2 separate regions of the Homo sapiens genome follow, and region 2 is linked to region 1. The links come from fine-mapping of genetic effects on gene expression. A gene starts in region 1. The other region holds a variant in brackets. All regions are shown on one strand. Distances are between the middles of the regions.

What was found. PIP is the estimated chance that this variant, and not a neighbour inherited with it, causes the effect.
Region 2: its variant is the best candidate, but not a certain one, in a credible set for the expression of C1QTNF3 in whole blood (TOPMed, PIP 0.50).

The regions. Positions count from the first base shown.
Region 1 is chr5:34,041,301-34,045,698 of GRCh38, reverse strand. It overlaps C1QTNF3 (C1q and TNF related 3), which reads left to right and starts at 2,486. Exons shown (of 6, transcript NM_181435.6): 1 at 2,486-2,876. The coding sequence starts at 2,574. All of the region lies in intron 1 of C1QTNF3-AMACR (C1QTNF3-AMACR readthrough (NMD candidate)), which reads left to right.
Region 2 is chr5:34,017,551-34,021,948 of GRCh38, reverse strand. It overlaps C1QTNF3 (C1q and TNF related 3), which reads left to right. Exons shown (of 6, transcript NM_181435.6): 6 at 1,207-4,091. The coding sequence ends at 1,366. It overlaps C1QTNF3-AMACR (C1QTNF3-AMACR readthrough (NMD candidate)), which reads left to right. Exons shown (of 9, transcript NR_037951.1): 6 at 1,207-1,362. Among named protein-coding and RNA genes, the nearest start is that of AMACR, 12 kb to the right of the region's middle. The variant G/C (reference allele first, on the strand shown) is at 2,024.

The sequences.
Region 1 (4,398 bases):
TCTTTCTCTATAGCAAGGCAGGAGAACTCACTCTGGAAAGACAGATGGAGTCCAGTTCTTTCCAGCTGCATAACACAAGACAAGTCACTTTACCTCTGCAAGCTTCTATCACCTCATCTATAAGATGGGATCATAGGTTTGCCAACAGAAGTCAGTGAGATAAAGCAAAGTAGTACTTGGCTAGCACATGGTAAGTGCTTAACAAATTATGGATATTATTATTTATTCCTTTTGAGTCAATGAGAGGATGGATCAGTGATTCCTAACCCTGGATGCACCTTAGAATCATCTGAGGGAAGCTTTTAAAAACTGCCCAGGCCCCAGTACAGATTCTGACTCAATTGGTCTGGGATAGAGTCCAGGCATTAATATTTTTAGAAGCTCCTTGGTTTAATATGCAGCCAGGGTTGAGAACCACTAGAATAGATGACAGGATTGAAAACACGAATGGAAAGTCTCAATGCGGTAGAAAGTCAGAGGCTGATTTATAGTTACTTAGCAGTATGGCCCACTTCGTGGGGGATGCATGATGGTGAGAGCCAGAGACAGCTCTTGGAAAACCTGTGAATTGGGTGACCTAGATTTCAGAGCCACTGCTTGCTTTGTGGTCTCCCTGTGACATTTTCTCTGGGCCTCCCTGAGGAGGGAACACCCCCACTGAGACACTGCTCTGGGCTTTCCTTCCCACAGCAAAAGCCCATCCACTTGCTCACCCTCCAAACACAGGCGCCATCCTTTCCCCAGCTCCAGCTCCAGGTCTGGGAAGAAAATCCTCAGTTACTAAGAATAACAGTTTGACACACTTCCCTTCCCAGGGACATCTACCTTTTAATGGTGGACATGACAGAACTCAAGGAATCCTCCAGTGAGGAAGGTTTAGATGCTCAAGGGTAGACTTGTAGCACAGAGATGGCTGAATTTTTATGCCCTACTAGGTGGGAACTGACTGCTTGGACTGAACATGACTCCCAAGGCCCCTGAACTGTGGCCTGGAGAGCTTTTAGTTCACAGAGTAACTCTCTCCCTCCGTCCCCAGCACCAAACCCTTTCCATGTATAAGTGTGGACTCTGGAAGCGGCTGTTCTGGTAGCTGCAGGAGGGGCCAGGCTAGTTTTGACAGTTCTGGCCACTTCCAGAGATGGCTCTTGGTTCTCAGGCCCTTGGCTGAGCAATGGGGGCAGCTGTCAACAGCTCTCTCTCCTCTCCCCTTTCCCCAGCTGCTCTGACTCTTCATCAGCAGGCTGAGCTTCTCCAAGCCTCAGTTTCCCACAGTGCCTCCTCGCCCCCTTCTCATCAGACGCTTGCCACCCATGCTATTTACGGTCCTGGGTCTCTCCAGTTTTCATGAGAGAAGGCCAGTAACATTTTCTTAAGCGAGTGAATGAGTAATATAAATAAAATCATATGTAAATAGAAGCAATTTTTGATGACAAAACTGTTTAAATTCTCTTAATTTATTATCCTGAAGCAATTAGGAATGTCCATTTTCTTTTTGGCTGAATTAATAAAAGTATAGCAACTAAAGCAAAGACATGAGAATCCTCTTAATCTGGATACGCTGTGTTTGAAATAACGTGTTTGGTGCTTTCCACTTCTTCAGTTTTGTTATTTATTTATTTTTTAAGTAGAGACAGGGTCTCACTAAGTTGCCCAGGCTGGCCTCGAATTTCTGGGCTCAAGGGATCTACCTGTCTTGGGCTCTCAAGGTGCTGGGATTACAGGCATGAGCCACTGTGCCCGGCCCCGTTTCTATTTTAATCAAGAATATGTCAAAAGAAAGAGGAGCCAGAGACAGCCTTCTCTTAACACAAAGCAGGGTGTTGTATCTTCATCTGACAATAAGTGACTTAGTTAACTTTGATTTAATTTTGGCTTTTGGGAAGTCATGGGGAAAAGAAGTAAAGCTGAGGGTGGCGAAATACCTTTGCTAAACCCAGAGACACTGCACCTGAATCCTGCTCAGTGTTTTGTAGGCAACCAACTGCCTTCTGCCACTGGTATCCGGAAGGGGAAATGAGTTACCTTAAGTGGGCCAAAGTGGGGAAATACTAACAGTACAGCTAGAAACCAAGAGCTGTCGTGAAAGCCCTGAATGGGTTCCCACTGCTATTTCAGACAAAACTGATGCAGTTAAGCCTGAATTTCCTGGCAAGCACAAGGGTAGATTTTTCCAAAAGGCTTTTTAGACTGCAAATACACAGCCTTTCCATGTCTAATCACAAAAGCAAACTGCTGGACACATGCTCTCTGTTCCCAGCTGGTTGTGTATGTTTTCTTCACACTTCAACAGAAACGTGCCAAGGTGTGACATTTATGAATTTCGCCAACTGGGAACTGTGCACACAAATCGTTCTTGCTTGTGGTGTGGGAAAATGATGAATGGGGGCTGTTCTGCCTGGGGAGGAGGGCTGCTGTCACTCTGGCATGCCTACAGCCTTATTTATTACACACCAAAGTATAAAACCACTCCGCCGCTGCAGCTCTCAGCTCCAGTCCTGGCATCTGCCCGAGGAGACCACGCTCCTGGAGCTCTGCTGTCTTCTCAGGGAGACTCTGAGGCTCTGTTGAGAATCATGCTTTGGAGGCAGCTCATCTATTGGCAACTGCTGGCTTTGTTTTTCCTCCCTTTTTGCCTGTGTCAAGATGAATACATGGAGGTGAGCGGAAGAACTAATAAAGTGGTGGCAAGAATAGTGCAAAGCCACCAGCAGACTGGCCGTAGCGGCTCCAGGAGGGAGAAAGTGAGAGAGCGGAGCCATCCTAAAACTGGGACTGTGGATAATAACACTTCTACAGACCTAAAATCCCTGAGACCAGATGAGCTACCGCACCCCGAGGTAGATGACCTAGCCCAGATCACCACATTCTGGGGCCAGGTACTCAGAATTCTCTTCTAAGGATTTTTGTGAAAGCTTAATGAGTGTTGTTGTTGTTGTTTTGTTGTTGTTCTTTTTTTGGCTAAGATTCTTAGAATCAATGAATGCTTTCGAGAAGTTCGCTAAGCTGCTTGTGAATCTCTTTCTGGATTGCTCTTGGGTACAAGAGAGACTGTCGGTCTCTGTTAGAAAATCAGCAGAGGCAGCAATGATGTGATGGGATAGTGGCCGTAGCATCACCCCATCAGAAAGGGGAACCTGGCCAGCCAGCTTCCTGCTATGCTGGGACTTGATTTCCTTCTTGCTCTGTTGGTCCGGAAAGGAGTGCTGACCCATGCAGACAGATCGGTCACTGTAGACAATCATTTGTTGTTCTTAAGAGAATTGGGCTTTCTTCATCCCTTCCGGCAGGGAGAAGCTGCCCTTTGAGTTTGTCAAAAGCAATCAAAGTTTTTTTACTTTGATTTGTGAGTATACTGTGACATTTCATGGCAGTCTTGTTTATTTGATTTATAGCATTCTAGATTGTTAAGCCTCTCTGTTCAGCCTGTTTTAAAAAGAATTAAAGAGTTAAATAAAAAATAAACTGTTTGAAATGCATACCTTATAGCATGATTTGATGCCTGATAATCACAGAGGACTTGATCTATTTCTCAGGTTATAAATTCAGCTCTAAGGAAATATCTTTAACTCTTGGTAGTATGAGAGTGAGTTAAGATTTCAGTATAGTGAATTGCAAATTGGTGAAACTCAATGTAATTTAAAATATTAAGTACAGGAAGAGACATATTTTGAATTACCCTCTAGACATCTAGTATGCTGAAAACTGTCAGAGGGGGCAAGAAGAGTTACTTTGAGTTATATGATATTTGAACATACAGGTTTTTACTACAAGATTTGATTACTTTAATGCATTAAATAGGACCTGAAGAATTTCTTGTAATTGAAATCTAAATCCTTCCTACCATGGATTCAGAAGTTTGGGTTGGTTGTTTGGTTATATGGTCAGACCAAGATCACACACAGAATCAATTGCAGATTTGAAACTAACCCAGAACTTCTAACTTGACCACACAAGGCAGTTGCCCAAACCATTCTGTGGGGGATGCATCCAGAGAAAATTGCTTCTTTAAGGAGCCACGGAAGAAATGATAATCTCTAAATATGATCCTATCTTTTGAAAACCACTTTTAGAGATTGTCTATTCATCTGATAATCTTTTGGCTAAAGGGTAATGATTAGCACTAATTTGTGTGTGGGTTTTTGTTTGTTTTTGTTTTGTGGTGAAGATATTTTCACTTGTGTCCAAGACTTGATCTGGACTTTCCATTTCACACATGGTATCCTTCTTGGCCAACAGATGGTATCTTTCCTGGCCATGACAGTGTGATTCCCCCAGAGGAAGCAGAAGGAAGTTAAAGGTTGTCTTTGGTCATTATGTCCTGACAACCAACACCCAGCAGGCCACTGAAATTCAAATCACATTTCTCCTTCACTCTACCTTCTAGGTTCCTGAAGTATT
Region 2 (4,398 bases), 24 kb after region 1:
AGTCTTTTTTTATTATGATTTTACTTTAAGTTCCAGGATACATGTGCAGAATGTGCAGGTTTGTTACACAGGTATACATGTGCCATGGTGGTTTGCTGCACCTATCAACTCATCATCTAGGTTTCAAACCCTGCATGTGTTAGTTATTTGTCCTAATGCTCTCCCTCCCCTTTCCCCTCACCCTGCCACAGGTCCTGGTGTGTGATGTTCCCCTCCATGTGTCCATGTGTTCTCATTGTTCAACTCCCACTTATGAGTGAGAATATGCGGTGTTTGGTTTTCTGTTCCTGTGTTTGTTAGTTTGCTGAGAATGATGACTTACAGCTTCATGCATGTCCCTGCAAAGGGCATGAACTCATTCTTTTTTATGGCTGCTGAATGAGTAGTCTTAAGGAAAAAACATCAACTTTATCACTGCTCTTCCAGATATAAAGACACCTGGCTTTTTTAACCTTGTTAGGCCCTAATCACGTAGACATTATTTACTTCCTTTTCTTCAAACAAGTCAGTTTTTGCCTAACTCATCTTTGGTAGCAACATCTTTCTAAAAGCAGCAAAGAGTACTTTGGCTTTTTCCAGTCACTTCCCTTTCTTACCCTACAGGCATTAGATCTGTCTTCCAAGTTATCACATTTTCCAAATGTTTTTGCACAGTGTAACATGGATCTTCTGCTTTCCCAGACCATGATATTTGTTTCCCCATTGCTCCTTGCCTGACCATGAGCCAGTGCAAGCCTATTTTTATTTGGGTTGCGGAGCAGCCTCCTTTTGTACCAAATTCTAGCTTGGTTAGGGGAAGCTAAATTACTGTAACAAAAACCCAGTGGAATAGCTCAAACATAATATAACTTTCTTTCCTTCTCATCAAACAGCCCAAGGTTGTTCCAGGTTGGAGCAGAGAAGAGAGAGAGCTCTTTTCCACATGGTCTCCAAGAACCCAGTATTCAACATATGGCTTCTAAGATCATTCTGGTCATTGTCATGAACATTCCAGACAGTCATAAGAAGGAGCAGGGAGGGGTTTTGTGAGAGTGTTACTAGCCAGCTTTAGAAGTGGTACATAGGTCATTTCTGCTCACAGGCTGTTTAGAGAACTTAGCCGCAGGATTATACCTGTGGGAAGGAGAGAAGGGGAGCACAGACTTTGGTGAAGAGCTGGTTGTTCATGGCAAAAACTAAGTAGTTTGTTCCTCTTTTTCTTTCCAGCTATGAAATGAAGGGCAAATCAGATACATCCAGCAATCATGCTGTGCTGAAGCTAGCCAAAGGGGATGAGGTTTGGCTGCGAATGGGCAATGGCGCTCTCCATGGGGACCACCAACGCTTCTCCACCTTTGCAGGATTCCTGCTCTTTGAAACTAAGTAAATATATGACTAGAATAGCTCCACTTTGGGGAAGACTTGTAGCTGAGCTGATTTGTTACGATCTGAGGAACATTAAAGTTGAGGGTTTTACATTGCTGTATTCAAAAAATTATTGGTTGCAATGTTGTTCACGCTACAGGTACACCAATAATGTTGGACAATTCAGGGGCTCAGAAGAATCAACCACAAAATAGTCTTCTCAGATGACCTTGACTAATATACTCAGCATCTTTATCACTCTTTCCTTGGCACCTAAAAGATAATTCTCCTCTGACGCAGGTTGGAAATATTTTTTTCTATCACAGAAGTCATTTGCAAAGAATTTTGACTACTCTGCTTTTAATTTAATACCAGTTTTCAGGAACCCCTGAAGTTTTAAGTTCATTATTCTTTATAACATTTGAGAGAATCGGATGTAGTGATATGACAGGGCTGGGGCAAGAACAGGGGCACTAGCTGCCTTATTAGCTAATTTAGTGCCCTCCGTGTTCAGCTTAGCCTTTGACCCTTTCCTTTTGATCCACAAAATACATTAAAACTCTGAATTCACATACAATGCTATTTTAAAGTCAATAGATTTTAGCTATAAAGTGCTTGACCAGTAATGTGGTTGTAATTTTGTGTATGTTCCCCCACATCGCCCCCAACTTCGGATGTG[G/C]GGTCAGGAGGTTGAGGTTCACTATTAACAAATGTCATAAATATCTCATAGAGGTACAGTGCCAATAGATATTCAAATGTTGCATGTTGACCAGAGGGATTTTATATCTGAAGAACATACACTATTAATAAATACCTTAGAGAAAGATTTTGACCTGGCTTTAGATAAAACTGTGGCAAGAAAAATGTAATGAGCAATATATGGAAATAAACACACCTTTGTTAAAGATACTTTCTAAACTTGTGTTTAATAAACTTTAATAGTCATAGAATTGTAAATCACTATGGTTAACAGAAAGTGAAAATATTTTCATGCAGATGATGTGAACAGCCATGTGAATAGGTGACTTGGGCACACAGCAGGGTCATATGACTTCAGAAAACTTCGCTTTTCAGTTATTCCATTGTTATAATGTCAACCCTTTAAGACATTGATGTTTAGAGGGCTCACAAATAAAATCTGAATACCTGTAAGGAAAGAGGTTTTTTATCACATACCTTAAGTCTTTGTAATGTTCATGCTTAAATTCTAAGTTTTCACCTTAGTGACACACAAGGTTTGGTTGTAGGCAACAAGTCCCAGGTGTGTGGGAAATTGATTCACAACAGAGATGGGAAAAGGTGCAGATAATTTCCAATGCCTTCACAATTTACCCATGACCAGAAATATACTTGGAAGACTGATTTCACAAGTGTCCCAAAACTGAGATGCTAAAAAGGAAACAGTAGGTAGGTGTCATAGGAAATTTACATGTACCATCTAATAAACAAACTTGCAAATTCTAAATCTTTTTTTTTTTTGAGACAGTTTCACGCTGCTGCCCAGGCTGGAGTGCAGTGGCATGATCTCAGCTCACCGCAGCCTCCGCCTCCTGGGTTCAAGTGACTCTCCTACCTCAGCCTCCTGAGTAGCTGGGACTACAGGCGCCCACCACCAGGACCAGCTAATTTTTAATGTTTCTAATAGAGATGGGGTTTCACCATGTTGACCAGGCCGGTCTGGAACTCCTGACCTCAGGTGATCTGCCTGCCTCGGTCTTCCAAAGTGCTGGGATTACAGGCGTGAGCCCCCGCACCCAGCCGCAAATTCTAAATCTTAAAACAACTCTGCAAACGAAGCACTTGAGTTTCTGCTTGCTTCAGGGATGTAATATGGTGTAGAACTGTTTCACATAATGATCAGCCTTGGTAATTTTCCAGTGTAGAAAACATTATATTTGACCCTTGGACAACAAAGAGATTATATTGAAGGAATTTTATTGATTGTATCATGAATAAAAGCTGAAGTCAAAATTAAAATGTAAAAAAATAATTCAGAGGATGGAATATGCAAATGTAAACTCCAAATGATGTGGCTGGAATTCATAAACATTTACTTTATGCAAGATACTGTGCTATTCCAGGCACTCCTATGGCATTTAAAGTACAATTCTTACCTTCCCTAATTTTTCAACCTAGTAGAGGACAATAGGCTAAAGGGAATAAGTACATGGATAACAAAACATAAAGTAGAATGTTTTTACAGCCATAGAAGGCAAAGGGCTAGGAATTCACAGGAGAGAGAAACAGTATCTAGCTGAGAGCATAAGAAAAGCTTGTGGAAAAGATAATATCTGATGGCCAGAGACAATTTCTTGCTTTGGTATGTTTGAAGTGTTATATTTAAATATATATATTTTTATTTAAAAAACTCACTATAGAAAATTTATAAAATTCCCCAAAATATTTAGTATAAAATTAATCATCCCATCAAATATTAAATAATATTACTATTTTAAAGTGTTTATTTCAGTCTTTTCCTGCATGTATTTATGGCTTTTATTTTTAAATATAGTAATAAAATAATTTGAAATTAGCTTTTTATATATTTTTGTATCTTGCTCTAATGGGTTGGACTAAACATATTAAGAACACTCTCAAATGCTACTAAGGACAATTTGAAAACATAATTTTAATGACTGCATAATTTATTTAACTTTCCTGTTTTGGAAAATATTATTTTTTTTTTATTACAAATAATATGTCATGAGCATTCTCTTTTTAAAAAAATAAACTATGTGTGCATATAATTATTTCCTTTGATTAAATTTCCAGAAGTGAGATTATTTGGTAAAAAAGCCTAGACATTTTAAAAGCTGTTAATAATGTCACATTTAAAAAAAAAAAATAGCTTAAACTTATGTAAGGAGGGACTTTATTCAAAAGGATTATTGCCATAAGGGGAAGGTGACTACGACAATAGGGAAAAGGCTCTGAGATCTATGAGATCTGTAGCTCAGAGGACAAACACAAATAGGCTTTCTTTTATGGAGAGAAGTAAACAAGAACTGGGTGCAGGGGATGGGATGGGTGACAGGTATGATGGGACATTGACTA